Linked DNA regions of Homo sapiens: regions 1 and 3 are each linked to region 2. The links come from fine-mapping of genetic effects on gene expression. A gene starts in region 2. Each other region holds a variant in brackets. All regions are shown on one strand. Distances are between the middles of the regions. Region 1 overlaps SHC3 (SHC adaptor protein 3). Region 2 holds the start of SHC3 (SHC adaptor protein 3). Region 3 overlaps SHC3 (SHC adaptor protein 3).

Region 1 (10,592 bases), 25 kb before region 2:
GATGTATTTCCTAATAGATCAATAAGTTGACATTTTCCAAACTGAATCACAGGTTATATAAGATGAATGGATATTCTATAAGTTAATGACCTAATCTCTAAGTGTAAATATTACCTGGTAGTACACTTTTAAGCTGAATTTACCACAATTACACCATTCAACATTGATTAACTGTTTCTATGTGCCAAGCACTCACATAGAAGAAGAAAAAGTCACTGACTCCAAATTTCACTCTATCTTTTGTTCTTTAAAAAGCCTGAGACTACAGATTTATGAAAGGCATACGTCACTTTCCCTGGGCTGGCATATGACAAAGCCCTATAAAACTTGCATGTATTTCTGCGTTCTGCTTTTTAGTAAGAAAAGAATAGAAGTTGGAGTCATACAGCCCTCAGTTAAAGGCCCACTTCATGGAATGTTATGTGTGAACATTCAGCAAATTACTTGAGCTTGTGGAGTCTCTGTTTACTCGCCTGAAGAATGGAATATGGTGAGAATTACATGAGAGGGCATGGATTTTGGACAAGTGGCATCGCTGTGTGCATAATCAAAGCAAGTTAGACATGCTGCATTCTAAACAATGACTAGTCTCCACCGCACACTGGTGTGGTAAGGATTTTCAATTCGCTTTTCCTAAAATTTGCACCAATTTACACATCCACTCATAGTGCACTAGGGCTCCTTCTCCTCCCTCTGCCAGCTCTGCAGGATGTGACTACAAGGTGGCTTCTTTTCATTTTGTTACTTCTCTGAATATTATAATTTTTACAATGAACTTCATTGTAAAATAAAGCATTATAAAATGCTTCAGAAATTACATTTTATTTAAATTTTAATGTCCCATCCTTTTCACTTAATCTAGGGAAATAATCAAAAATGCATGAAGAAGAGGCATGATCAATCTCTCTGCACCCCTCTTCCTAAGACCTTTTCACACTAGGATCCTGTCGTCTAAAGTCTTTTTTCCTCCCCTCTTCATCTGGATAACTGCTACCTACCTTTAGATCCTAGAACTCTAATGAAGTCAAATTCCCACATACCTCTGGTTCATTTTATTTAATATAGCTGTACTTTTTACAAGTATTTTATATTGAGGTATAATTCACATGCCATAAATATTCACCTTTTAAGAGTGTACAATTCAGTGATTTTGAGTATACAGTAGATCCCCCTTATTTGTAGTTTCACTTTCTGTGGTTTCAGTTCCCCACAATCAACTGGGGTCCAAAAATATTAATGGAAAATTACAGAAATAAACAATTAATAAGTCTTCCGTTGCACACTCTTCTGATCAGCATGATGAAGCCCCAGTTGCTCCACCCGCAGTGTGAATCATCCCTTTGCCCAGCATCTCCAGGCTGCCTATACTACCCATCCCTTAGTCACTTAGTAACAATCCCAGTTATCAGGCTGACTGTCATGGTACTGCAGTGCTGGTGTTCAAGGAACCCTTATTTTACTGAATAATGGCCCTAAAGTGCAAGAGTAGTGATGCTGACTTGTCATCATAATTGTTCTGATGTATTATTAGTTATTGTCGTTAATCCCTTACTGTGAATAATTTATAAATTAAACTTTATCAAAGGTATGTATGTATAGGAAAAATCATAGCACGTATGGGGTTCAGTATTATCCATGATCACAGATACCCACTGGGGGTCTTGGAACATTGCCACCAGGGATAAGAGGAGATTATTGTATTCACAATGCTGTACAACCATCACCATTTAATTCTATAGTCTTTTTTCATAATCCCAAAAAAAAACCCATACCCCTTAACAACCACTCCCCATCCTCTCCCACACTCAGTCCCTGGTAATCACTAATCTACTTTCTGTCTCTATAGGTTTGCCAAATCTGTACAGTCCATGTAAATGGAATAGTACAATATGTGCCGTTTTGTGTCTGGCTCCTTTGCTTAGCATAATGTTTTCAAGATTCACCATGTTGTAGCATGGTCAGTACTTCACTCCTTTTTATGGCTGAATACTATTCCGTTGTATGTATATACCACCTTCTGTTCATCTATTCAGCAATTGATGGGCATTTGGGTTGTTTCTATTTGGGGGCTATTGTAAATAAAGCTGCTATGAACATTTGTGTACAAGTTTTTGTGTAAATATACATTGTCAGTTCTCTTGGGTATATACCTGTGAGTGGAATTGCTGGGTCTTATGGTAATTCTGTATTTAACTTGAGGAGCTGCCAAAATGTTTTCCAAAGCAGCTGTACTATATTATGTTCCCACCAGCTGTGTATTTTAAGCTGGGTTTTGATTTCTCAATTCCACCAATAATTGTTATTGTCCATTTTTTTAATTATAGCTTTTTTTGTTATACCCTAAAGGGTATAAAGTGGCATTTCATTATGGTTTTGATTCACATTTCCCTAATGAGTAAAGATGTTGAGCATCTTTTCATGTGATTATTGGCCATCTGCATGTCTTTTTTTTTTTTTCTTTTTTGATACATGGTCTTATTCTGTTTCCCAGGCTGGAGTGCAGTGCTGTGGTCACTGCTCACTGCAGCCTCAACCTCTTGGGACCAAGTAATCCTCCCACCTCAGCCTCCTGAGTATCTGGGACTACAGGCATGTGACACGGTGCCTGGCTATTTTTTAAAATGTTTTGTAGACATGAGGTCTCACTATGTTGCCCAGGCTGGTGTATGTCTTTTCTGAAGAAATGTCTATTCAAATCCTCATAAGGTCTGAATGTTAGTGTCCCCCCAAAATTCATACATTGAGACCTGCTGCTGAATGTGATAATATAAAGAGGTTGGGCCTTTTGGTAACTGATAAAGTCATGAGGGCTCTGTCCTCATTAATGGGATTAGTGGCCTCATAAAAGAGGTTGAAGGGAGCACTTGTCCCTTCTGCCATGTGTGAATGACATGAGAAGGAGCCATTCATGAAGCAGAAAGCCCTCATTAGACATTGAATTTGCTGGTGTTTTGATCTTGGACTTCAGGCCTCTGTTGTTTGTAAATTACCCAGTTTAAGGTATTTTTGTTATAGCAGCAGGAACAGACTAAGACAAATTTGGGGCTGTTTTTAAATTCTGTTATTTTTCTTTTTATTGTTGAGTTGTAAGTATTCTTTACATATTCCAGGATAGAATATTATGCAGCTATTAAAAATTATGTCTGCCAATAATATTTAACAATTTGGGGAATCATTGAGCCTGATCTCACATTTGCATAAATAAAAATAAGGGCTAAAATAATTCATGGACATTTTAAGACATCATCATGGAGGATTATGATTATAGGTGATTTTAATTTTCTTCTTTATGTTTTTCTTTATGTCCTTCTTTTTCTGCAATTAGCATGTATTGCCCTAATAAAAGAAAGCTAAATATTATTAACTAAAAGTATTCAGATTCAGTACTAAAAGTATTCAGATTCAGTAAGGTTGTGCCCAGACTTCTGGATTTGCAATAATGTTTGATGATTCTCTTTCTAGGATTATATTGTTAGCGGAGCCAGCCCCTAGTGATTTGAGTAGCTTCAGATTATGTCAGGGGAAGTGGCCATATGTTACATATTGCTCTCTGGAAAATTAGAGTTAAAGATATGGGATGTAAACTAACACTGCAATCAAGCTCCTAAGTCTTAACTCTGACTTAGTGAATTGTCACTTGTTAAAAACGGGAGAATCCACAGTCCTGTGAATTGGGCATCTCTTTAAGCCGAATCCTATGGGTTGTTCTTCCTCTCCCAGTGGTGGCCAGTTGGCCTGGGCATAGATCAATTACCATGCACTGTAAAAAATAGAGGTCAAATGAAATCAATTTACAGGACCATTTGAAATTCAAGCAAAATTCTGCTCCAGAATATTTACGTTTTCAAAATCCTTCAGAATTGCTCAAGTTAGTTGTGGCTTGGCAGTCTTAGTGGGTCCACCATAGACATCCTCAATATCTATGTCCAACTGTCTTAGCAAGTCCACCACACATGTTCTAGATGCCTGTGTGCAATCGCACCTTCTCACAATTCTTTAAAGTCAACCACTGCCCACTCTCCAGCTTATATAACATGGCACATCCGTCTGATATTGGCATTGGAATAATGTGAAGTTCCAAAATGACTTGATTCAGTAATGTTAAAATTAAGATGATTTATTACAAGCATTTATATGTATTTGAGCAAAGGGAAACTCTACTTTTCATAAATTAATTTGTCTAATGTACTTTATACAGGATTCTGCACCATCAAAGTTATATATTTATGAACTCTCTTCTAAATAATACCTTGAATTGATTTAAAAGATACAATCCATACTTAGAAAAAATGGGCTATACTTAATAGTGCTAATTTGACCAAATATTATTAGTATTGTTTAATTTAAAAGATAATTGCCGTAAACTAATCAATGGTGACAGAAGTCAGAAGAGTGGATACCCCTGGGAGGTATCAAATACAAAAGAACTCAGGGGGTGGGACTGGAAATTTGCTTTAGATCTTAGTCTGTTGATGTTTGCACTGGTGTGATGTGTGTATAAATATGTGCTCGTTGAGCTGATTATTTAAGGTTTTGTGGTTTACTATGTATGTTGTGCTCAGTAAAAAAGAATTAAAAAATCATTTATTTTAAGGGGTCCTTGAAATTATTTTCTTTCTAACACTCACCTTTTCCTAGTAAATAATGTATGTTCATTGCAGAAAATTTTGGAAAATACAAACAAGCATCAAAAAGTTAAAATCATTCATAGGCAATCCCCCCAGAATAACTTGGTATTATGAGAATGTTGTCTGATGCCCTACTTATAAGGCAGCGGCCGCTGGGAGCTTTTTATGAACATCGCCTACTTCAGCACTAACACCACAAACATCACCTACCCCAACATCCATGCTGCTCTCACTCACAGCGTTTCATCCACGCTGCTCTCACTCAGAGCATTTCAAAACTCCTCCCTGGTTATCACTTTGTCCTTTGCCTTTTGTGATTGGCTCATGCTGTTACTGCTGTGGCCCCAAAAGTGATTTCCCAAAGCTGTAAAGCTGAGAACCCTCATTTGGGCCAGGGAGGCCCCTCAGTCACTCCAGCTTTCACCCCAGCAAGTCTCAACCTCCTGTCCACCTCAAGGGTGGCAAGAACGGTGCCACGACATCACCTTCAGCAGAACAAATTTCACTTGAGCTAAAAGGCTGAGCTGACACACGGCTGGAGTCACTATCATGTGATATCACAGTACTCTCTCTTGAATAAAGGAAATATGACTAAAGGCGAGGTTGGCCCTGACTCATGGGGCTTTGGAGAAGTGAGCTCTGGGTTTAACAGTAGGACTGGGGATGGCTCAGACTGCGGACCTTCAGTGAGCCTCTGCCACCTGCCAGGCACTCCGCAGAGCCTTTCACAGACATTCCCTTCGTTCCTCCTGACGACCTTATAAACAGAGTGCTGCCGTTACACCCATTTTACAGATAAAGAACTTGAGGTGCAGGTGCACCTCCATATGACAGGCATCATCCAAGAGAAGTGGAGGGCTTAAACAAGCTAGTCCAACCCTTGGCCATGGGCTATATGTGGCCCAGGATGGCTTGGAATAGTGGTTACCCCTGGGAGGTTACTAACTGGTTGGAAGCCGTTCTGTTTCTTAAAACATTATGAGATTTTTTTGTGTGTGATTTTTCTTTTTTTTTTTAGCTCATCAGCTATCATTAGTGTTAATGTATTTTATGTGTGGTCCAAGACAATTTTTCTTCTTCCAATGTGGCCCAGGGAAGCCAAAACACTGGACACCCCGATTTAGAGTTAAGTAAAGTTGTCCATGTGTCCACAGAGTCCCAGTACCCGCTGTTAAGGGTGAAGCCAACTCTGAGCCGGAATGCATGTCAGTGCAGCCCAGCACACAGGCCCTGTGAGGAGGGGATGCCCCACGGTGTTTTGGGCATGGAAAGAGGGTTGGGTGTGAAAAGTGGTGCCCACCCACTTTCAGTTTTCCAACCTCCTTTTCCAGGCTTTTCTCAGTTTCCATACATTACATCAGGCAAGAAATTAGCTATTCCCCTAATCATGTATCTGTTTCCTCAGCTACTAAGACAACTCTCATTTAAATCTCTCCTCTCACAGAGAAAATTATATTAATATAAATGCCATATAGGTGTTCATCAAAAGACCTAGAACGCCTTTGTAAATGTGAGCTGGTGGCGTGTGTCATCAATCTTACGTACGACAAGGAAGCTGAGTCAGAGAGAGGAAGTATGACTGGGGTTTGGTTAAAAGTAAACCACTGTGCTTGATTTCATCTGAAAATCACAGCAATGCAATA[G/A]ACCACATCTGCTATCCAAAGTCAAAGGAAAAGAGCAAAGGAATGTTCCAAAAATACATATTGGTATTATGGCTAAAGCCACGTTCTAGCTAGTGGGTGAGGCAGATAAAACTAAGCAGCCATCTTCATTCCAGTGTACTTCCACTTCTATTCTCATTTTCACTCTGCCACTAAGCTGGCTGCTCAGTCTTAGAAAATTCGTTATCTACCCTTGAGCATTGCTTTTCTTCACGACACCCCACAAAAAAGACTGCTGGTCAGGATGACCCTGTGTGGCCTGCTGACCCCCTCTCTGTGCAGCTGAAGCCGGTGCCACCAGCCAGGTTCTCAGTGCTGTTTCTGGTTCGACGGAGCCAGCCTTCTCTCAGCCTTGGGCCCCAGACTCAATACAAGCCTCCATTTCACTGGACTGGACCATTTCTGAATGCTTGGCTTGCATTCTACCCGATGCCACACGCCCTTAATTCCCGGAGCCGGCTTCTCTCTCCTTGCTCTTACGGAACAACCACTCAGCCATCTCCAGTCTGGTGTGAATGACCAAGAAGAAGTTCAGTTGTCTCTGAAGCCTGGGCAAGAATGATGGTCTTGGGGGTCTCAGCTCCCTAGTCCATTGCTTCTCCATCCTTACAGGATGTGCGAGTGTCACCCAGACCTCACAGGACTGCTTCCAGCTCCATTCCATATGGAATGTCAGTAAGGTCCTGCTACCACCAGCCAATATGCTAGACTTGTTCTGGAGTGCCACTGAGCCCAAAAAGCCACCCTAAGTAGCCCATTGGAGAAGAAATACCAGCTGCCGACTCTGGCCTCAGCTCAGCCCCTGAACATGGAGTTGGCAAATCGTCATCTACCTGTTTCTCCACCTGGTCACATTCACAAGGACTTTCCTTGCCTTGGGTTTTTCCCTCCTAAATCCCTGATTGTCAACCCAGCTCTGGTTAACTGACTTGGCACCTGAGGGTTCATCTGTTAAAACTGTCTCTAACACAAGAAATTCATGCCACCCCATCTACCTCTTTGCAGAAGAAAATTGTCCCTATTAAGCTTTTAAATTCCATCTTTTATCATCAATGGGACTGATTCTTACTGTCAACCAGGGTATTTTTGTGGTTTCTTCCAGCCTAAAACCCATGAATCTATACCCATAGCAAAAATATTTATGTTTCTGAGGCCTCCTGGCATTTGTGCCCTTATAGAGTGCCCTCCCCCATTGAATGGGGCTGACCCATGTGACCAATAAAATACTGTGAAGGTGACAGTGTGTGCTTCCCAAGGCTAGGTCATAAAATCTATTACTGCCTTGATTGCTGCATACTCTGGGGGAAGCCATCCACAATGTCATATGGACACTCAAGAATCCCTATGGGAAAAATATGGAGCGGGCCATGTGGAAAGGAACTGAGCCCTCCTGCATATAGCCAGATACCACCTGCCAGTCATAGGAGTTCACCATCCTGAAGTGGACCCTCCAGCCCCAGTCAAACCTTCGGACGATTACAGTCCCAGTTGACATCTAATAACTTCAGGGAAGACCCTGAACTGAAACTGAACTGAAACATCATAGATATGATTAAGTTAAGGATCCTTAAAACAGAGCAGGAACCCCTCTTAGGAGCCTGTGGGCCCCCAAAGACATAATTTTTTTAATCTTCGGTGCATTCAAAAAACTTCCAGTCACTTAACTAGTCCTAAAAAAGTAAATAAAAACTTAATAAACCACAACAACAAAAAAAAACTTAATAGCCAAACAAACTAAAGTCACAAGATGTTTGGTTCCCTGTAAAAACCAAAGACAACATCTTAAAATATGTCCCTGAGTTGTTTTCCAGAAACCTAGACCCCACCAAATGGAGCCACTGGCACACAGATCTCAGGTAAGGAGAGGCTGAGGACTCAACTCTGATTGCTATTCTTTGTTCTAAATTTCTTCCTGAGGGGCCTGGAGAAGGTCATGCCTATGAACCAGAGCTCACCTTCTTTTCTGCCGATCACACATTCTTAGACAAAGCTTTGACTCCTTAATCAATCACAAATCAGAAAATCCTGGAATCCACCTATGACCTGTGGGCCTCTGCTTGGAGATGTCCTGTCTTTTTAAGTCAAACCAATGTATAGCCTCCCTGTGTTGATTTATGACCTTGCCTATAACTTATGCCTCCCTGCCTCCATAAACCCTTACGTTTAAGCCATCTGGGAGGTCGGGTGTCAAGCGTAAGCAACCCAATTCTCCTTACTTGGCACCCTACAAGTAAGGGTTACACTTAAATACCCTCCCGCTAACACCCTCCTTTCTCCCACTACAAACCTCAATAAATATTTGGCCCTACTGCACTGGGTGAGTGGACCCCAGTTCAGTTCAGTAACATCCTGAGATAGAAAGATCATTCTGGATTATCGGGTGGCCCATACATATAACCACAGGGTCGTTATAAGAGATAAGCAAAGGAAAATCTGACCACAGGTGAGAAAAAGACAAAGTGATAATGGAAGCAGAGATTAATGTGGCCACAGGCCAAAGCGTTCTCACAGCTAGAAGCCTTAGAAGCTTCCAGAGACAAGATGCAGACTCTCCCCGGAAGCCTCCAGAACAAATGAGCCCTGCAGATACCCTGACTGTGGTCCTGTAAGTCTCAGGGCAGACTTCCGACCTCCAGAATTGTAAGATAAATTTCTGTTGTTTTAAGTCACTAAATTTGTGGTCATTTGTTAGATTGGCAACAAGAAACTAATATATTGCCAAAATGTTTTTTTAATTTTTGTCAATCTTCCTAAGTTTAACAATTTTTTTTTTATTCAGGATCTCTCTCTGTTGCCCAGGATAGAGTGCAGTGGTGCAATCATAGCTCACTGCAACCCCCAACTCCCAAGTTCAAGTGCTCCTCCTGCCTCAGCCTCCTGAGTACCTGGGACTACAGGCATCCTGCCACCACGCCAGGCTAATTTAAAAAAAATTTTTTTTGCAGAAATAGGATCTGGCTATGTTGCCCAGGCTGGCTTCAAACTCTGAGCCTCAAGTGACCCTCCCACCTTCGCCTACCAAAGTGCATAGGATATGTATAGGTGTGAGCCACCATGCCCAGGCTGGTGTATCAATTTTATCAATTTTTTTCAAAAAATCTGATTGTGCGTTCATTGATTTTTTCAATTGATTTCCTATATTTAATTTTATTGATTTCTGCTTTTATCTTTGTTATTGCCTTCCTTCTGCTTGCTTTAACCCTTTTTTTTAGTTTCTTGAGGTAGACAGCTGGATTACTGATTGAAGAACTTTTCTGTTTTCTAAGGTAAGCATTTGGTGCTATAAATTTTCCTCTTTGCACTGTTGCTATGTCCCATATATTTTGACATGTTGTGGCTTCATTTTCATTCAATTCTATGTATTTTTTGTATTTCCTTTGAAGCTTCTCCTTTGTCTCATTAAGTATTTGCAGCCATGTTGTTTAATTTCAAAGTTTGGAGATTTTCTTATTGTTTTTCTATTATCAATTATTAATTTAGTTCCATTTTAAATTGAATTTCATTGTGATCAGAGACCATGCTCTGTATGACTTTAATTCTTTTAAATTTGGTTAGATTTGTTTTATGACCTAAAACATGGTATATCTTGGTGAATGTTTCATGAACACTTGAAAAGAATGTTTACTCTGCTGTGATTTTGTGGAAGGCTCTATGTATGTCCGTTAGATCCTGTTGGTTGATTATTTTGTTCAGCTTTTGTCCATCCTTGCGATTTTCTGTCTAGTAGTTCCATCAATGGCTAGTGGTATCAATTACTAGATTATTCTGTCTAGCGGGCTGTTGAAGTCTCCAACTATAATTGTGGATATATACATGCTTTCTTGTGATTGCTTCTGTTACAAGGATGGGTTCATACACATGCTTTGTTTCACCACGCTGTTTTCACTCAACAATTCCTTGTAAAAATCTTTTCAAATCAACTGTAATAGGACTCTAGTTCACTTTTAGAAATGGCTACATAGTACTATTCCATAGTGTAAATGTACCAGAATTTACCCTACCACTCTGTAGTGTGACATTTGCTTTGTTGGGTGGGCAAAATAATCCTCAGTGAAAATTCCACCGGCTTTCTCAATTACAAGCCTGAATTTTGATGACAGAGGCTGATAGTTGGAAACTCATAGTAGTCAAGTGGACCATAGCATATAGTAGGGGGTAGAAGTGTGCAGGGTAGACATGAGTCTGTATTAGGCCTTTTGAGAAAAGAATGTGTGACTTTGAAAACCATCAATAATTCTGCTTGTAGGTCATAATAAGCCATAAAGAAAGCTCTACCATCTTTTCTTTAAAAAAGAGTAGTGAT
Region 2 (10,592 bases):
GTGTATGTGCATATGTGTGTGTATATGTGAGGTGTGTGTGTGGTTTGTGTATATGTGTGTGGTGTGTGTGTGCCTTTAACACATCTATGTTTGTGTCACATAAAAAGAGACAACTCACTATCCAGATCAAATTAATAACTTTATATATTAATGTCAAAAGAAATTCTTAAACTATTTTTCAAACCATTTAGATATTTACGTGTAAGCCATCCATATCATAAGATTTCGAAAGAATTTTGAGAAAAAAATCAACTTTTTAAAGTTCAACTCCACATCAAAATCAATTTTTCAGTCTAGAGGTAAAATAAAATTCTACAATATTATAGTAGAATTGATATAGTTATTTTAATATAGTTAAAATAACTTTTGTATGATCTTTGCTCACAGTTACCAAAAGAATACAGCTCTGAGAAAATGAAAATTTAAGATATTTTTATACACTTTGTCAAGTGAAAAAAATTAAGAATAAATTTTTGAGTAAATGTAATTTACGAAGACCACCTATAAAAGGCAGTAGAGCATTTACAAATAAAGCAAATGATTTATACCACCCCAAATATCATTAGATGCACAAATGGGAGTAATAAAATAATTTTTAAAGAGTCCTTGTAAAAACAGAGCTTTGTTCCAAAAGGGAAGCATATCAGGAAGGGTCCAGTGTATCAGGAAATAATGCAGTACTTTTCTGATCGTTAAATCTCCTATAAATAGCTCGCCATTTTCACTGTCAGTAAATATACAACACTCCACAAGCTGAAACCTATGTAACTTCGCTGGAGCCTTCACAGGTGTTTATGAATGGCGTAATCTGCTGGCTCACTGAATGCTGACGCTGTTGGAATAGCTCTGAGCAGTGGGCACCTAAAACCATTGCTTTTACATTGGGCCTCCTGATTCTTGCCCTTGGCACTTGGGTCATTTCTAAATATGGTCACTTCTTATCCTTTTGAAGTCTGTGCTGTGATGTGCTCTAAGAAGGAGCCCGTCTTTTGGGGACCACGCTGGGGCCAAAGGCAAACCCGGTGCAGCCCACACAGCATTGCTTCCTGCTCCAGCCTCGCCCCTCCAGCAGGCAGTTTCAGAGCTGAATGTCAAGGCTGTGCTTGTCTTCAGATGGCCCACTGGCTCTTTAAAAACTGAACCCCTGCCTCCTGTCCCCTGCACTGTTCATATTCCTTCCTACAGTTTCCCCACCGTGGATCTGAGGACAGAGAAGGTGGAGGACCAGGATATTGCCTTTTGAACCTGCTAAAGACCAGCAGCCTCCTTGAGTGATTGGGGTCCTACCCAGGCTTGACTTTAGGATAAGATAATTTAAAGGTGGGCAGCACCGTAATCAATACTCATTGGTATTTCTTTTAGGTCCAAATATCAAATACTTTTAAAATGGAAATTTAATGAAAATAGTCATTGTTCTTTGCTGTTGGATTTTTCTTTTCTATCAAGAGCATAGTTCCTTGTTCTTTCTTTTACGTCACCAAAAGAAAAAAGGAAATGTCAAGATACTTAGGGGAGTAAAAAGGTGCTGCCAATGAGGCCCAGCTGAAAAGAATATAAACCTCTAGGCAGAGTAAGCTGCAGCCTTTCTGTGTGCATAGCCCCATTCTGTTATTTAGCAGCAAACTCAATGATGGACCAATTAGACATGCTTTGAGCTTTGAATTCTACTGTTGCTCAGGAACTTCTTCCATGTTTAAATTTTAAGTCCTTCATTAATTCACATTCTAAGCTGTTGCTCAAATAGTTTAATGTTTCCTAGATGATCAAAATTCACCAGACTTCTGTATTTTACAGTCCCTGTTCTCAGATTAAGTTGAAATATTTTTGAATTATAATTCATATGTGCAATATCCTAATATCACCTGTAAGTAGGTATTTCTTTGAGGGGGAAAATCTATAATACAGTATATAAATTTTCCAGGAAACTAGAAAACATTTGGGGGCTTTATTTTTAATTTAGAAAAAAATTATATCAAAGAGAATAATGCATCCTTTCCCAAACCCTAAACCTTTATATTTTACTATTGGTATCTAGTCATATGATAAAGATGGCCCATTTCTATCTACCAGAAATCTTTTAAAGTAAGGATACCGGTAGAACTATTCAAAAATTCTAAATAACGCCAAATTAAGATTGTTTTCAGTTTAACAATTTTTCAATAAAATAAGTTCGAGGTTTTAAACTCAACATGGGCAATGCGGGAATTTGCACATGTGCGCCAACAGAGGGCCATGTGATAATTTGAATCAAACATGCACACACACTTTAGCATCTGGTTTTCTTTCTGCGTGATTTCAAACTTCTCCAGGACAGCAGAGGACAATGCCTGCGTTTATGTTCACATCACAGCACCATTCATGGCTGCTAATGAACAAGGAACCAAAACATGGATGGTACAGAGCCCTAATTAGTCATGCCATGCACCCCTCAACCCATCACTGCAACCCCTTAAATTTGAGGCAACACAAAGTAACCCCAAGACACAGACAAGCTCTGTGCAGATCCAGCCCTTTGACTATGAATACTACTGCTGATGCTGCCAGTAAGTCACAAACCTTACAGCAACAGATTGTCGACGCAGAGCCGTCTTATTTTCGTACATTCATCATTATTTTGCCACATTTGACCTTTCAAACTTGATGCTGGCCTTCCTTCTTTAAAAAGCAAAAGCAAAGTTCTAAGCAAAGTGATTAAAACAAAAATTTAAAGCCATAAGTTTGAGAATTCTCCCTCAATTTGAAAACTACTCTGTTTAATATGACAGGTAGAAAAAGCTTTGCCAAGGTCTATTTGTCTATTTGAAATGTAGGCTTTTTAAAACAGCAATTATGCTAACACCCCAGAAGTAAACACAACCTCAAAGCTGTCAGGGATTTTTGGTTTGGTTTGTTTTTTTCTTTTTGTTTTGGCCCCTGGTTATATAATTTAAATAAGCAAAACAAGAAGAATATTCAGTACCTCTTAAAATAAACTCAACCAAATATGCATATATTATGCTCATCTATACCCCTTTGGTAAAATATAATAATCCATAGTTTGAAGGTTAAATTAAAAAGCAGACTGAAAAGGTGAAGAAGCCCTCTTTTAACAACAATGGCCACATTCATCTGTAAGTACTTTTTATATAGTTAAAGGCAATCCACAAAGTTAAGTATTTCTGTTAATATTTTGGTTCCGAAATTACCAGACACTGCATTTTACCTGAGGATGTGTTCTATTTAATTTTTACACTGGAATCTGCAGCCAATATTTACGGAACAGACATCCTGGGGGTTTCTCAGTGTTATTGAGGACACGGTGGGGATAGAGTTTGTGTCTCATTTCTTTCTCAATACAAAGCCATGCCTTGGAGTGGCAGGATTGAAATACTGCAACTTCCATCCTTAACCCCTGTCTGCTCGGCTGTGGAGGCTGTTAAAGCTCTGAGCTGCCCAACCGGCAGAAGGAAATAACCGCGTGGCAGATTACTTGAACTGTGCTGAGCATTTTTCCTTAAATATCATAACATGCTTGCATAAGGGTGGAATTTTATTGACTACATCGTGATTTTATCATCTTTGTGTTGGAGGAAAAAACTCCTTTCCAGCCTGTGGCTCCAAGCGCAGCGCCCTAGTTCCCTTTTAGCACATTTAAATGGAAGACTACAGTCACCAGAAAAATAGTCCCAGAATTCTCATTCCGCTGCTGTAAACCAGAACCTTTCCTTAGGGAATGAAAGACAAACCCCAAGAAAACCTGGACTGGGTGAGAAAGTAAAGCCCGTCGAAGAGAAAGCAGCACAGCATTTGGCCTGCTCTGCAAGGAGCTGGGAATTCTTGCTGCGGGGGGCAACAAGATACCCACCCTCCCGCCGGGGAAGACACAGCAGGAGTAGGGCCGCCACTCCGTGCATCTCTCCTCCCGGGGGCTGCCCAGCTCTCCCCAGCGCGTTTCCTAGATACTAGGCAGGCCGGACCCCCGCTGCCCAGGGTTGGGCGCCCATGACACTGGTCAGACATCTGGTAAGCCAGGTGGCAAAGGCGTGCCAAAAAAGTGGAGCCTAGGGAAAACCGGGACGGAGCGGGCCACCCGAGTGGTAAACCTTTTCCCAATGGATGCGGGAAAAGCGCATTTGTAGTTCCCTCCTCACCGCTGTCAAGCGAGCTGATTGCTAAGGAGTGCGCATTTGCTTGCCTCTAACGTGACAGTCGCGGGAGCGCCCCGCACCCCGGGCTTCAGGGAATGAAGGAGTCTGCCCCGAACTGGCCCCAGAACCCCCAGCCCCCAGGGCGGCCCGCGCCCGCACCCACCTTGACCACGTAGGTGACTCCGGGCCCCAGCACCTGGTCGCTGGCGTGCGGCGCCCCCCGAGGGGGCCTGGGCAGCGGCTCGTCGCCGGGCCGGCCCTTCCTGGCGGCGCTCATGGCCGGGGCGCGGGGCGCCGAGGGCGCACTGCCGTCCGGGGCGGCCAGGCTGGGCGCGCTGCAGCTGCCCGAGAGCCGCGCGCCCGCCCGCTCCCGGGCGGCCGACGACAGGCCGCGGAGGCCCGAGCTGGAGAGTTTCAGGTGGGACACCTTGTGGAGCAGGTGGCCCAGGCTGCCGGGCCCATCGTCGGGCGCCTTGCGCAGCGCCTCGCCGGACACCAAGTAGGGAGCCGCCGCCGGGGTCGCGCGCGCCGCCGAAACCTTGCCTCCGCCGCCGCTCACCGACAGGCTGTGGAGAAGGTCATCGACCGATGTCACCGAGTCATTCCTGAAGCGGTTATACTTGGTGCGTGGAAGCATGCCCCTCCGTGGGCTCGCTGCATCCGCCCGGGCGCTGCTGGTGCCGGCCCCGGCGCGGGCTGCCGCGCATAGCAGGCGAGCCACTGTCCCCGGAGCGGGACGGAGAGTGGGGGCCCCGGGACAGCCTTCTGGAGAACGAGAGCAGAGCAAGAGGATGGTGCCCTCCCACCGTTAAAAGCCAGCACAGCGGCGGCCGCGCAGCCCCGGCCCGGGAGACCGCTGCTTGGGGTTGCACGTTTGCTTTGCAAAAGTCATAGTTGCCTCTGATGGAGCGCCCAGCTGCTTGGGGCTGCTCACAGCAAAAGCATGACTCACTCTGAGAGGAGACCCTTCTCAACAAAGGCTCGGTGAGCACTGCAAATCACTTCCTGTAGCAGAAGAAAAAAAAGGAAAAAAAGAAGAAAAAAACGACATCCACCCGCTGACAGCACACTATAGCCAATCAATTCTCAAATTTCCTTTTTCTACCTTCCCAGATATTTCCTTCCAACCTTTGATTTTTCACCTTCCCATCCCCCGCAATCTGCATTTGTGCCAAAGGTAAATCCAATCCAGTTCCTTCAAATCGTCAAATGAACTTTCTGAAACCCATTATTCTGTTAGGTTTTGCTCGTCCCTGCTCAGCCCATCTGTGTGAGCCTGTAAAAGTGTCTAACAGCGATGCGTTAAAATGTGACGAAGGCTTTTTAAGAATCAGATCTTCAGCGAATCCTGATGAATCTTGACTTGGAAGGCAGCAGGAATTTTTAAATAGAAAAAAACAAAAAGGATATTCACCCCCAGGTGACTGTAAAATACCAATTTCCTGGGTTTTGCTTTTTCTTTTCAAATTAACAGAGCAGCGATGACAAGTGTCTTTGTGGCAATGCAGTTCCTCAAAAAAAAAAAAAAAAAAAAATCTGCATATGAACTTCTGCACAGTGCCAATCAAGGGGTCTTCCCTGCTCATTTACAGCAGTCTTTCTCAGCCAGGGTTAAGTTGAATATCCACTTCCAAAAAAGAAGAGTGCTTCTTTCACGAGTGGCAACAGGCTCCAGAAATCCATTCCAAAAAAGGGGCTGCATTTGAAGCTTTAATCCTACTGAATGTGTTTAAGCTCTGGAAAAACGCCTAAGAAATGCTACAAATACATTTCAATGTTCCTTCAGTTGCTGCTTGCAACCCTGCAGTCAGGAAGGAAAAAATGCAGCTGTTCTTATTGCACATCAAATCCACAAGGAGGAAAATATGCCTTCTTTTCAGGAGTCAGGCTCGGGCTTGCAAGTAAAATGCACAGGCCTTCTTCCTCTCAGTTAGGAGAGCAAGGCTTTCGCTGTCCCCAGAGGTCTGCCCGAGACTGAAGCCCTCTGACTCTTGACCTCAGTGGGCTCTGCCAGGCTTCCTCATGCATTAGGATCACCTGCTCCACAGTGAAACACTCACTATCAAAGTTTTCCCGCAACTTCTGAGCAAGCGAATAAATTCAGCTCTAGCACACTCTCAGGTCACCCTGAGTCCTCTCACTCCCATGACCGAACATGTGGGGCACGTGAGGTCCTGAGTCTTGAACCCTGCTCTATGGAGCAGAGTTTAATGAGCGCCACTCATGGCGGGCGAGCGGGTGAGGCCAACCCCTAGGACGCAAGAGCGCAGAGGAGCCGCGGCGTCCCCGGTACAGGAAACGCGTCCCCACGGCTCGCCTCCTGTGCCGCAGCCCTAGCAGAACAGCTACACGGCACTCATTTGTTCCCTTTCCCTAGCTTGCATAGCAACAGCAATTGCACACCCCATAGATGATTTTGATGGTTATCAGAGTCCTCCCCAGATCTGTAGCGAAACAGCCCTATCATTCCCAAAGCGAGATCTTCATTAGATGCAGACAAAAACCGCAAAATGTGAATGAAATGCTGTTTGTGTGAATGAAAAGGCTAGCGAGCGAGCCAGCGTTTCTGTGAATGAAGCAGGGCCTTGCAGCCGGTGCCAGGCAATCCCCTGGGCTCCAGCGGCCTCAGCCAATGAGCGGCCGCCCCGATGACTCATTCAACAAAGGCTTGCTCAATAGTGGAAGATTCCATTTCAATCAAAGGCGGGATCTTTTATCCAACGGCAGTGTGGGAAAAAAAAAAAGAAAAAGAAAAAAAAACACCCAGCCGGATTACAAAGATACCGGGAGGAAGAGGCCAGCTGCTATGGAGAGGAAAAGCTAGTTTTACAAGGGAATTCAAGATCCCTTGGTCAGGTCTAAGTGTGAAGAGGGTCTCTCTTGGAGGTGAGCTGTGCCCCTAAACTTTCATTCAGCCGTTCATTTACATCAAGGAGCAACCATGAATGTGCCAGTCGTTCAGCTTTTATTATGAATGTACATTGAATGCACGTTCAAAACCTAGGTTCCTAGCCCTTGATTCTTTTTTTGTAAAAGGCATGTAGGACACCTGTACACGTTCTGAGGCTCCAGGGAGGAAAAAAAATCCAAAGCTATGTACTTAACGTTTAGCCAACAGGAGACTTTTATTTCTTTTATTATGAGGCCAGTGGAGGGAAATTGGTCATTTTAAAATATAAATAGCAACATAAATTTACTATATATGAAAAGATATATAATCAAAGACAGAAATTAATATTCCAAGAACACAGTAGTACGGTAAAACCTCACTTACCTGGAAAATAGTATCAACATTTTGGAACGTAGCAGAAAGATGGAAAAAGAAAAACCCGAAGGCCTCTCAGCATCAAAAGGAGGCTGTGCAGCCCACACAGAAGCTCACACACCCTACTCATGAGAAAACCCTTTGCCCTTTCTGGGGAGCTGTTCATGTTTATTTTAGACCCTGTACCAGAAAGCCCACATATCTTCTTGATCAACATAGAGACAGATGAGAGAGGAGACCACTGGGACAGAAAATGCTAAATGTAAATGAAATTTTCTGTTGCTGGCTTGCTTGATAGCCATGGAAGGAAGCAGGAAAAAAAAACTCCATTTTAAAGTCAGCCTTGAGATTCACCAAAGCCAGGCAGTCTGGGGCAATTTACAATGAGAGCCTTTCCAGTATGTTGTGGTTTTTCTTTTTTAAATCAATGCTTAAACACGTATTTGCTTTCTATGGCTGCCGTAACAAATGACCACAAAATCAATGGCTTAGAATAACACAATTTATTATCTTCCAGTTTGTAGGTAAGAAGTCCAAATGGGTCATGCTGGGATCCAGCATGGGTGTGGGCCGAGCTGGTTCCTCTGGAGGCTCTGAGGGAGAATCCACAAATTTCTGAGAAGGTGCCATGAGCTGGGCCCTGGGGAAAGTGGTTTTGCCTTCTGGAAGGCAGAAGATCTGAAATTAATGTTATAACCTAGTTAAGACTATGTGAATTTTGTAATATGTGTGAGATACAAAAACTTGACCAAAGGAGTGAGCTTGTCCTGAGGATGCGGAGGTGACCCCTGACCCCAGTGGAGGCATCCTCCAGGTGACTTCACAGGAGGAAACTGTGTGGGCAAGGGCTCCAGGCCTGAGCAGTCCAGAGTCTCCCAGAATCCCTGGTAGGTTGGTTGGGTTGGTGAGGAGGTCAGGAGGCTGGGCACTCATAAAGGCTTAGAGGGGTGATGAGGTTTGGATGTGTGTCCCCTCCAAATCTCATGTTGAAATGTGACCCTCAGTGTTGGAGGTGGGGCCTGGTGGGAGGTGACTGAATCATGGGGGTGGATCCCTCATGAATAGCTTAGCACCATTCCCTTGGTGATAAGTGAGTTCTTGCTCTGAGCTTACATGAGATTTGCTTGGATAAAAGAATATGGCGGCCTGGTGTGGTGGCTCATGCCTGTAATCCCAGCACTTTGGGAGGCCGAGGTGATGGATCACCTGAGGTCGGGAGTTCGAGACCAGCCTGGCCAACAGGTGAAACCCCATCTCTACTAAAAATACCAAAACTAGCCGGGCATGGTGGCAGGCCCCTGTAATCACAGCTACTCGGGGGGCTGAGGCAGGAGAATCGCTTGAACCCGGGACGAGGAGTTTGCAGTGAGCCGAGATCGCACCATCGCATTCCAGACTGGGCGAAAAGAGCAAGACTTTGTCTCAAAAACAATAAAAATAAAATAAAATAAAATAAAATAAAATAAAATAAAATAAAATAAAATAAAATAAAATAAAATAAAATAAATGTGGCGCCTCCCCTCTCACTCTCTTTATTGCTTCTGCTCATGCCATGTGACACTCCTGCTCCGCCTTCACCTCCTGCCACAATTAAGGCCCTCACCAGAAGCCAAGCAGATGCCAACACCATACTTCCTGTACAGTCTGCAGAACCATGAGCCAATTAAACCTCTTTTCTTTATAAATTACCCTCTGGCATTCCTTCTTAGCAATGCAAGAACAAATGGACACAAGGGGCTTGAGAGAGGGTCACATAGTCAGGTTTGCCTTTTATGGAGACCACTTTGATAGTGACTTGGGGTGGCTCTGGGAAGTTGAGAGGAGGTAGGAGACAACAGGACAAGTTAAAAAGAACAAGGGCTTGAATGAAAGCAAGAGCAGTGGAGCTGGAAAGAGAGGGATGGATTCAAGATAGCTGGGAAGGTAAAGGATCTGTCTCTGTGATGAGGAAGTGTAAGAGAGAGCGAGGCTGGGTAGGCTGTCTGCAGCTAGAAGCTAAGACAGAGTTTGGAATGCAAGATGCTTATTAGAGATCAAGCTCCACAGAAAGCAGGGGAGGCTGCAGGAGGGAGCAGAGGCAGAAGTGGGCTGTGACCCAGGCCCCACACACCTCGTCCTTCCAAGAGTTCTGGAGAAAGAGTGCCATCCACAGAGAGTATCCCCTGGCCTGCAGGGCTCCTCATTCACTCTCACGCACTCCCTCACTCTCTCCCACATTCACCTCTTTAGTGTGGGCTGCCCAGGGAGGAACAGCCTCCAGCAGGTGGCACCCCACAGCTGAGCACCCCCAGAAAAAGTTGATGTGAAGGCTGTGTGCCCATGGCACCCTGCAGCCCAGCCTCTCCCAAAGAAAGGAATGCCAAGCAAAGCCCACGTTTCTAACTTGGACCATTGGGTTGAGCTGAATGTTAGCCATGAGGATGAGGAGCATCCCCATGACAGGCAGGTCATGGGGAAAGGCAAGGGCTGGGCTTGAATGTGTGTGAGGGGTGGGGATCTTCCATGTAGAGATGGCCAGAGCCGAAGAGCAGTCAGGGCTGGAAGTGGAAACTTGCAAATGCCAGACTTCCCAGATGGGAGCTAAGAAAAAAAAACGGTCATAATTTGGAGAATAAATATGGAAACCTGGTTTGATGAATGTCATGGAGGAGAGTTTCAAGAGAAAAACCAGTGATAGTTAACAAATGTAATGATGACAGTCATAACCACCTTGACTGAGTGTCCCTAGGCACCAATGCATGCCTGCTATAGAGAGATATAGATAGATGGTTTACAGCCTGTTTTGAATGAAAAGAAACCAAGAATCAGAGGAGTTACAAAATGTGCCAGAGCCACACTGGGTGAGTGATATGGTTTGGATTTGTGTCCCTGCCCAAATCTCAGGTTGAATTGTAATCCCCAGTGTTGGAGGTGGGGCCTAATGGGAGGTGACTGGATCATGGGGGCAGTTTCTAATGGTTTAGCTGTCCCCCAGTGCTGTCTCATAATAGGATTCTCACAAGATTTGCTTGTTTAAAAGTATGCAGCACCTCCCCCTTTGCTCTCTCTTCATCCTGCCCCTACCATGTAGATGTGCCTGCTTCCCCTTCACCTTCCGCCATAATTGTAAGTTTTCTGAGGCCTCGCCAGCCATGCTTCCCATACAGCCTGCAGAACTGTCAGCCAATTAAACCTTTTTTCTTTATAAATTACCCAGTTTC
Region 3 (10,592 bases), 41 kb before region 2:
GAGAAAATTTTTACAATCTACCCATCTGACAAAGGGCTAATATCCAGAATCTACAAAGAACTTAGACAAATTTACAAGAAAAAAATCAAACAACCCCATCAAAAAGTGGGCAAAGGACATGAACAGACACTTCTCAGAAGAAGACATTTATGCAGTCAACAGACACATGAAAAAATGCTCATCATCACTGGCCATCAGAGAAATGCAAATCAAAACCGCAATGAGATAACATCTCACACCAGTTAGAATGGCGATCATTAAAAAGTCAGGAAACAACAGGTGCTAGAGAGGATGTGGAGAAACAGGAACACTTTTACAGTGTTGGTGGGACTTTAAACTAGTTCAACCATTGTGGAAGACACTGTGGCGATTCCTCAAGGATCTAGAACTAGAAATACCATTTGACCCAGTGATTCCATTACTAGGTATATACCCAAAGGATTATAAATCATGCTGCTATAAAGACATATGCACACGTATGTTCACTGTGGCACTATTCACAATAGCAAAGACTTGGAACCAAACCAAATGTCCACCAAGGATAGACTGGATTAAGAAAAGGTGGCACATATACATCATGGAATACTATGCAGCCATAAAAAAGGATGAGTTCATGTCCTTTGTAGGGACATGGATGAAGCTGGAAACCATCATTCTGAGCAAACTATCGCAAGGACAGAAAACCAAATACTGCATGTTCTCACTCATAGGTGGAAATTGAACAATGAGAACACTTGGACACAGGGTAGGGAACATCACACACTGGGGCCTGTCATGGGGTGGGGGGAGCTGGGAGGGACAGCATTAGGAGATAAACCTAATGTAAATGATGAGTTAATGGGTGCAGCACACCAACATGGCACATGTATACATATGTAACAAACCTGCATGTTATGCACATGTACCCTAGAACTTAAAGTATAATAAAAAAATTGTTCAGAATATCTACTTTGAAGCATTAGATTCTAGATGAGGCCTGGGGACATGTGAAGTGCCATGCCCCTTAGCCATGCTGGAAAGAGTCAGCTCTTACAGCACTTCTGTCTGGTGTCCTAGGCTCCACACCTGGCACATAATTATAATCACTTATGAACCAGGTTTTTCACCAAAAGTAAAAGTTGCTAAAAGTTAACAGTGCAATATGTGTTTGAGACTACTAAAGAAACAGTTCTACAATATGCAAGGAGTGTAAGGAAAGTAGAATATACTTTTGGTAAAAGATTATAAGAAGGCCTGGGAATGTGGATTTCTTGCCTGTGTTTAAAGGGTAAAAGGATTCTTTTAAAGTGAGATAGAAAAATATTAAAGGTTTGAACAAGTTGTGGAAAGTTTATTAAAAAATTAATTGTTAAAAAGATTCTTTGTGTGAACATATTATCTAGAGTTAAAGGGGGTATTATTCAGTTTTTCTGAATAATAGTTGAACACTAAAATAAAAGCACAACAGGATTTTCTCAGAGCACTGATCTGCTCTTTACTGAAAATTGTTAAGGGATTATAAAGGGTTTATAAGAATCTTGCCTTACAGTTGAACTGATTAAGATTGAATAGATTTGTCTAATAATTATAGTTGTTATGTTAAATTATTGTGTGCCATAGATGTAACCAAAATTTCCTTGTCAATTGTGACTTTAATAGTGGCTGTCCTAAGACTCTTTGCCATCCACAGACAATTGTTTTCTTGTTTTGATCCTCTTCAAAAGGTGGTTTATAATCAGCTATAGAATTTGACAGGTACTAACGAATGCAGGTTTCTGATAACTTTGGAGATTGTAACATTAGAATAGAGGAAAAATCTTTAAGGGCTCTCATGGAGAGCTGAAATGTTTATTAATATCAAGCAGAACAGAAATTAACTGCATGGGCTGAACTAATAGAAGACTGAAGTAATCTTTCTGACTTTTGCTTAAAATGTAGCTGATCTTTTGTTTTGTTTTCCAGAGTTAAGGAAACTTTTCTTTTGAGGTATTTACAGCCTTTAGCAATTGAGTAAAGTATACTCCTGTAAACAAAATTCAGAGCATATTTGTTTCTCTTTATGTGATTTCTCCAGAATTTAGAAATTATTTTTGAGTAATCTTAATTTATGGCAATATAAATATTTGCATAAGTACAACAATCATGTTTTCTTTTGTAACAGGAAACAATTAGAGAAACTGGTTATTTTACCAAGGCTTTGACTCAAACGGTGTGCTTTCCTCTACGAAATCAAACTTGACTTGTAGAGCCAACAAAAGCCCCTTGGGAAAACTGGCCTCATACCTTTTCTACAGCAGTCCCTGTGCAGGGTTCCTGACCTGTGGTAAGTAAAGAATGTCACTTTCTGACAGGCTGAGAAGCCCCAAGTTTTCTTCAGACCTCAAAAGAAGAAGCATTTATTTAACTCAGGTATTTGAGGGTACAAACCCATGGCTGGGTTTGGCTTTAAAAAAAAGTCTTATCTAAGATTCCTTTTATAGAAAAGGAATTCCATCAAAGCCAATTTAAAAAGCATATTTAAAAAAAATTATTTTTGATGCACCTTATACAAATAATCTGGTCAAGTATAAGACTAAGGCTTATTTTTGCAAACAAATCAGTCTGTTATGATTTGTCTTGAGTAAAAGTGGGATAATAGAGAGAGAGAAAAAATTATGTTTCAAGTACTATGGTACACCTGTTATAAAATTCTGGTTTCATCAGTTGTTTTTGAGGGTTTTTTTTCTGCGATTTAGACTGACTCTGTTTATTCCTGTGAATCAATCAGTGATCTCTGGCTGCAGCTCAGAAGAATTGAGATGGATGAGTAATGTAGAAACAATCTGGATCAATATTCTAATTCTCAGCATATACTGGAATCAGCTAGCAACCCCATATCAGCTTGGTTTCAACAATTTTCCAGTTCATAGAAAGCCTTCTTATTTAGTTTACTTGGCATAATTTTGCTTATTTTGCTTTACTGTTGTGGAATATATTGCTGTCGTACTCCTTGTGTAGGAATGCAGGATAAGCTTACGCAATATTCTCTTAAATTGAACACTTATTAATCTTCCAGATATCACATTTTGTCAGAGCTCAAGAGTCATGAATGACCCTCACCAAACTGATGCTTTCTGACTGAGCTCCTCTCTACCCTGAGGAGCCCCAGTAGTTAGGCAGGAATATCATTACCCCTATTCAGCCTGAAGAAATTACAAAAGATGGATCTTTGTCCCTCTTCAACCCTTAGGATTAAGGGTTCTCTTAGAAAAAGGAGAGGAGAAACATGTCAGAGGCATTTGAACCAGATCAACTTCATCTTGAATAGGGGCTGGAAAAAATGAGGCTGAGACCTACTGGGCTGTATTCCCAGGAAGTTAAGGCATTCTAAGTCACAGGGTATGATAGGAGGTCAGCACAAAATACAGGTCATAAAGACCTTGCTGATAAAACAGCTTATAGCAGAGAAGCTGGCTAAAACCCACCAAAACAGAGATGGCGATGAGAGTGACTTCTGATCCTCCTCACTGCTACATTCCCACCAGCACCATGACAGTTTACAAATGCCAGGAAATGTCAGGAAGTTACCCTATATAAAAAGGGAAGGAATGCTCAGTTCCTGGAATTGTCCACCCCTTTCCCAGAAAGCTCATGAATAATCTATGCCTTGTTTAGCATATTATCAATAAATAACCATAGAAATGGGCAACCAGCAGCCGTTGGCGCTGCTCTGCCTACGGAGTAGCCATTCTTTTATTCTTTCACTTTCTTAATAAACTTACTTTCATTTTACTCTATGGATTTGCCTCGAATTCTTTCTTGTGCGAGATCCAAGAATACTCTCTTGGGGTCTGGATTGGGACCACTTTCAGGTAACAATATGGCTGGAGTGTATTAGACCATTCTGCACTGCTATAAAGAACTACCTGAGGCTGGGTGATTTATGAAGAAAGAAGGTTTAATTGACTCACAGTTTCACGGGTTGTACAGGAAGCATAGTTGGGGAGGCCTCAGGAAACTTATAATCATGGTAGAAGGGTACAGGGGAAGCAGGCACATCTTACATGCTTGGAGCAGGATGGAGAGAGAGTGAAGGGGGAGGTGGATATACCTTTAAACAACCAGATCTTGTGAGAACATACTCACTATCATGAGAACAGCAAAGGGAAAATCCACCTCCAGGATCCAATCACCTTGCACCCGGTCCCTCCCCCAAAATCGGGATTACAATTCAACATGAAATTTAGTGGGGGGACACAAAGCTAAACCATGTCATGGAGATACCATTGTTTTTCCACTTTAGTCCAGATTCTCAGGAGCATCTTTATACACATGGCTAAGGGCTCAGCAACAGTTCACACTTAGCTAAAAATGGCTTAAGTTTCAGTGTGTTTTATTTCTCAAACTCAAGATTACTTTGAGGATCTCAACACATTATGGTTTTTGGCACCTCCAGTTAACTGCAATAAGCCTTAGATACACAACTTCCAATTAGGACATCCAAAAAATCCCAAATCTTAAGAAATTGATGGTACAATTGTGGCAGACAGACTTTGTGAAAACTCAAGTTCATGATAAAAAAATTCCAATCAAGTTTCTGAAACTTTTTTATTGGGAAACAGGAATATTAGCAAACTGCACTATTATTAAAAATAATAACTCAAGGGCACAGAATAAAATTAGCTTTCTGAATGAGAAATATTAAAAGCAAAAACGTCTAGGGGTGGAGACAGAGTTCCTGTAACAGAAATGAGAATGTCAGTGATAGAATAAACTGAGCTAGCTTGCTAAAGAATTCAAAGAAATAATGAGAGTGTGTAGGCAAGAAATCAGAGTCATCAGAAGAGCTGCAACTTACAAAGACCCCAAAAGCAAACTCAATTCATCAGGAGCAAGAGGAAAATAAATGAAACACGTTGCTCCTTCAATCCATAAGAAAAGAACGATAACAGCCCATAGTACAAAGACAAAGCCATTATTTTGTAACAGAGTCTTCACAAAGACTTTCCTCTGCAACTATGAGTCTGTGCAGGCTGCAAACGCACTGAAAGGGCAGGAAGCCAAACCAGAGTTGGGAAAGATTAGTCATAGATGTCACCCTTTGTAGACTCTGATGCTTCTCGCCTTGCCCTGGGAAGCCGTGAGCTGCCAGCTACAGAGACTTGGGGGACAAAGAACATGCATCTGAGGGCAAGGGTGACAGCAGATCTGTCCTACTGGTGGAGAGAGCTCCCAATCCAGACCCTAAGAGAGGGTTCTTGAATCTGCACAAGAAAGAATTTGAGGCAAGTCCATAGAACTACGTGAAAGCAAATTTATTAAGAAAGTAAAGGAATAAGAGAATGGCTACTCCATAGGCAGACCAGGCCCAAGGGCTGCTGGTTGCCCATTTTTATAGCTATTTCTCAATTATATGCTAAATAAGGGGTGGTTTATTCATGCCTCCCCTTTTAAGACCATATAGGGTAACTTCCTGACATTGCCATGGCATTCGTGAACTGTCATGGAGCTGGTGGGAGTGTAATAGTGAGGACAACCAGAGGTCACTCTCATTGCCATCTTGGTTTTGGTGGGATTTAACCAGCTTCTTGACTGCAATCTGTTTTATCAGCAAGGTCTTTATGACCTGTGTCTTGTGCCAAACTCCTGTCTCATCCTGTGACTTAGAATGCCTAACCGTCTGGGAATCCAGCCTAGCAGGTTTCAGCCTCATTTTATCCAGCCCCTATTCAAGATGGAGTTGCTCTGGTTCAAATGTCTCTGACATTTCCCCTCTCCCTTTTCTAAGAGAACCCTTAATCCTAAGGGTTGCGGAGGGATAAAGATCCATCTTCTGTAACTTCTTCAGGATGATTAGAGGTGATGATATTCCTGCCTATTAGGGTCTCTTATATTAGGCATAGAAAGGAGCTCTGTCAGGAGGCATCAGTATAGTAAGGGT[G/C]ATTCATGACTCTTGAGTTCTGAGAAAAGGTGGTATCTGGAAGATTAATAAGTATTCAATTTAAGAAAACATTGAGTAAGCTTATCCTGCATTCCTACACGAAGAGTACAACAGTAATACATTCCACAGCAGTAAAGCAAAATAAGTACAATTATTTCAAGTAAACTAAACTAGAAGTCTTTCCATGAATTGGGAAACTGTTGGAACCAGGCTGATATGGGATTGTTAGCTGATTCTAATGCACCCAGAATTAGAATATTGATTTTATCCAGATGTTTTTTACATTACCCATCCCTCTTATTTCTTCTGAGCAGCAGTCAGAGATTGCTGGTTGGTTCACAGGAATGAGCCAGATCAGCCTAAGTTGAAGAAAAAACTCAAAAACAACCAATGAGACTAGAATCTAATAACAAGTGTACCATAGTTCTTGAAACATAATCTTTCTCTATCCAGTTTACCATTGTTACTAAGGACAAATCATGGTAAGACTGTTTTGCTTTATTACACTTGGCCTGATTATTTGTATAAAGTGCAGTAAGAATAATTATTTTTCACATAAGCTGTTTTTAAATTGGCTTTTGTGAAACTCTGTTCCATAGAAGGAATCTCAGATAAGACTTTTATAAAGCTGAGCCCTGCCATAGGTTTGTACCCTCAAATACCTATGAGTTGTGTCAATTCCTTTCCTTTTGAAATCCCAAGATAACTTGGGGCTCCTGGGCCTAAGATAAGTGCCATTCTTTACTTATCACACAGGTCAGGAATTCTGTACAGAGACTGCTGTAGACTAGGCATGAGGCCAGTTTCTTCAAGGGGCTTTTATTAGCTTTACAAATCAAGTTTGATTCCTTAAAGGAAAGAACACCATTACAGTCAAAGCGTTGGTAAAATTACCAGTTTCTCCAATTCTGTCCTATTGCAAAAGGGCTGATAAAGGCTGACTCTTGAGCCTAGCTAGGGAGCATGGCTCTCCATATGTCCCTAGGCCTTATTTAGAATCTAATGCTCTAAAGTAGGTAAATTGAACAATTTTCAAAACTTAAAGAAACAGTTTATTACCTTAAAGCATTTAGCAAGCCTAATATCTGACCTGAGTAATTTAGACCAAATGTTTAAATTTTGAAGACATTTTAATTTTACCAATAATTTTTAAAACTGTCATTTCTTGAAGAGTACTAAAGTCACATGAACTAAAAGCCATTAGACTTTTTACTTTTCTGACAAAATGCTTGATTTAAGCAGTCATTGTTTTTAAACCAATGAAAGCTTCTTTTTTATATCACAAACACACAACACACATAAATACATGACAGAAGAAGACCCAGTAGTTGTAAGATTTTTCATTTACCAGTTTCTTAATTGGATTACTGGCTTCAGGGTGGAGCCCAGAGCCAGGAAAGCATGCATTTTCTAGGGCTAATAAGCAGGGACAGCTGGAAGGCAAACAGATTCCCCCCCCCAGATTAAGGGTCCTGCTTTTATACCAGATCTTGGATCCCAAAAAGAAGGAATCAGCCCCTCCCCATGGAAGTCTTATCTCTCAGTGGCGGTGGTGGTGGGTGGGGGGGCGCATCTCCATACTTCCTAGGTGGCCAAGAGCATGTGTTTCTTATCCAAGCATGCACAGCTGAGTATTTCCCAATAACTGCCATTAGCCATCTCCAAAAGTATATTTCCTACCTAGTTATTACACACCAAATTCTCTCATAATGCAAAACAATTTCTGATACCTGCAAAAGTCAAAAACATCAGATACGGCAATGCAAAACAGAACAAAGCCTTAGATTTTGAGAGGAAACTAACTGCTTTTAATTCCTGGGGTTTCATGAGGAAAAAAAAGAGAATTTTCCCAAAACAGGGTCCGTGGCACTTCCTCTGTTTTTCTCCAGGAGTTCTAGGCTGTTAGTAATTATCTCAGGTTCTCTTATGTCGGCATTAACAGTGGCAAAAAGACAAAATGAAGAAAAACAGTTCAGTCGACTGAGGAGAAAAACTTTTTTCAGAAAGAACAAGATTCAAGAAGGGGAAAAAGATAAAGCCCTTTTAAATATATATAGTTTAGATATCCATATTTTAAATTAATTAAGCTGATTTTTAACCATAGCGCTCTTTTAAAAAGTCATGGTAAATTTCTTATTACCAGACTTTAGCCAGGCCAAACAGCCAATATTTCTGGCTCAGTGAAAGGAAAATACAGGACAGTTTTTGGAGGAGAAGAGAATAACAAATGGTAATGGTCATGCAGATATCAAACAAGAAAGAACTCATTCCCTAAGCAGGGAATTGACCCTGAAGTTGGGATGCCATTGTAATGGCAGAGACCAAGAGAAAGTACTGCCACGTATTTACAAGGTCAAGCTCCCAAGGACATAACTGACCAGTTTGCTGGGCTGTCTTGAACAGCGAGCTTGTGGAGTCCCAGGGCTGTGTTCTATCCTACGGTACCCTTCTTTATGACAGAACAATACAGAAAGACACACAAATCATGCCAGATTCACCACAGCTTAAGAGTAGCCTCACAAATCTTTTTTCCATTAATCAAAACTTTATGAAGGAGATAAACAGTGATTTTTACCATTCATTCAACTGGTTTGCACAGAGAGAGAGGCCAGAAGTCTGACTGGTAAGAAATTTTTACCCTTTTGCCAGCATGCCAGGCTTCTGGGTTCCCTTTCCCTAGTGAACAGCCCTAGTGACCTGTGGGCTGCACCACAGCCCTGGGGGCCAAGCCACATTATAAAGGAAAATTGTCTTTTTCTGTTCTGGCCGGAGAAAAATACATGTGACAAAGCAGACACTAGCTGCCCTGCTTAGCACCCAATGTCAAACTACTATGGCTCAAACTTGCTCCTGATTGGGCCCTGTCATCATTAATCCAACCTCTGACCAGCAGTTTCAACTTGCGGTCACAGGGCAAGATGATCACCCTGAATAATAAAAAATATAGGAAAGGAAAAAGAGAGAGAGAAATGCGTTGTCTGCAGCAGGGTGGGGGAGGCGAAGAGGTCAGGGAGGCCAGAGAAAGACCCATCTATTGCAGCAACACTGAAAAGTTCAGGTGGCCATTTGTCGGTCATAGGAGGGATCTTTTCCAGCAGTTCCATCAGCTCTCATGTTTCCCCTTTAGGGAGAAAAAAGCTCCCCATGTCCCTTCATCCTGTACATGCCTAATTCTGTCGCCCACAGCCATCAGCAAAGAATGTAAGGCAGATTAATTAAAAAAGAATAGGAATTAACATCCCATGGTGCCAAATCCATTCTTAGCCCAGAAGGACTTTACTAAATGGCTCCTCCAACCCCCTAAATCTTAGGAATGACTCTAACCTTCTTAAGTTGGGCCTTGAACCCAAGTTCAGTCGAGTTTCCTTGCCTTTTATTAAGAGGGGCCTTTAAGGCTGGGTGCGATGGCTTGCACTTGTAATAACAGCACTTTGGGAGGCCAAGGCAGGTGGATCACTTGAGGTCCAGGAGTTCAAAACCAGCCTGGCCAACATGGTGAAACCCCATCTCTATTAAAGATACAAAAATTAGCCAGGTGTGGTGGTGGGTGCCTGTAATCCCACAAGGCAGGTGGATCACTTGAGGTCCAGAAGTTCAAAACCAGCCTGGCCAACATGGTGAAATCCCATCTCTATTAAAAATACACAAATTAGCCAGGTGTGGTGGTGGGTGCCTGTAATCCCAGCTACTCAGGGCTGAGGCAGGAGAATCACTTGAACCCAGGAGGAGGAGGTTGCAGTGAGATCGCACGACTGCACTCCAGCCTGGGCGACAGAGTGAGACTCTGTCAAAAAAAAAAAAAAAAAAGGCGGGGGGTGTCTTTTACCCACTCTGTCTTAGGAGAGATTCTAACTCCCCTAAGTTGGCCTCTAACCCAATCCCATCCTTTACTCACATATATGCACACCACTTGCCCAAAGTCAGCCAATTGGTGTGTGTACAGATAATTTTCCTTCGGGTCGAGGGTCTCCTCAGTATCATACCTTTGGAGTTCACCAGAAAGATGTTACCGGACCCCACCACTTACCCCAAATTAGCCTTTGGGTTGGGGGCTTCCTCAGTATTGTCCCTTCCATGGTCACCAGAAAGATGTTACCAGAAATGGGTCCTGATCCAGACTCAAGAGAGGGATATTGGATCTCGGATCTCGCACAAGAAAGAATTTGAGGTGAGTCCATAGGCAAAAGTGAAAGCAAGTTTGTTAAGAAAGTAAAGTAATAAGAGAATGGCTACTCCGTAGACAGAGCAGCCCCAAAGGGTGCTGGTTGCCCATTTTTATGGTTATTTCTTGATGATATGCTAAACAAGGGGTGGATTATTAATGCCTCCCCTGTTTAGACCACATAAGGTAACTCCCTGATGTTGCCATGGCATTTGTAAACTGTCATGGCACTGGTGGGAGTGTAGCAGTGAGGACGACCAGCGGTCACTCTCATTGCCATCTTGGTTTTGGTGGGAATTAGCCACCTTCTTGACTGCAACCTGTTTTATCAGCAAAGTCTTTATGACCTTTATCTCGTGCCGACCTCCTATCTCATCCTGTGACTTAGAATGCCTAACCATCTGGGAATCCAGCCCAGCAGGTTTCAGCCTCATTTTATCCAGCCCATATTCAAGATGGAGTTGCTCTGGTTCAAATGCCTCTGACACTTCCACCCAGGAGTTTCAGAAGGTGAAGGGAGTTGGGAAACGC

The links. PIP is the estimated chance that this variant, and not a neighbour inherited with it, causes the effect.
Region 1: its variant is fine-mapped to the expression of SHC3 in fibroblasts (GTEx, PIP 0.94).
Region 3: its variant is fine-mapped to the expression of SHC3 in fibroblasts (GTEx, PIP 0.98).

Annotation. Positions count from the first base shown.
Region 1 is chr9:89,148,573-89,159,164 of GRCh38, forward strand. All of the region lies in intron 1 of SHC3 (SHC adaptor protein 3), which reads right to left. Among named protein-coding and RNA genes, the nearest start is that of SHC3, 25 kb to the right of the region's middle. The variant G/A (reference allele first, on the strand shown) is at 6,272.
Region 2 is chr9:89,173,697-89,184,288 of GRCh38, forward strand. It overlaps SHC3 (SHC adaptor protein 3), which reads right to left and starts at 5,122. Exons shown (of 12, transcript NM_016848.6): 1 at 4,291-5,122. The coding sequence starts at 4,764.
Region 3 is chr9:89,132,986-89,143,577 of GRCh38, forward strand. All of the region lies in intron 1 of SHC3 (SHC adaptor protein 3), which reads right to left. Among named protein-coding and RNA genes, the nearest start is that of SHC3, 41 kb to the right of the region's middle. The variant G/C (reference allele first, on the strand shown) is at 5,900.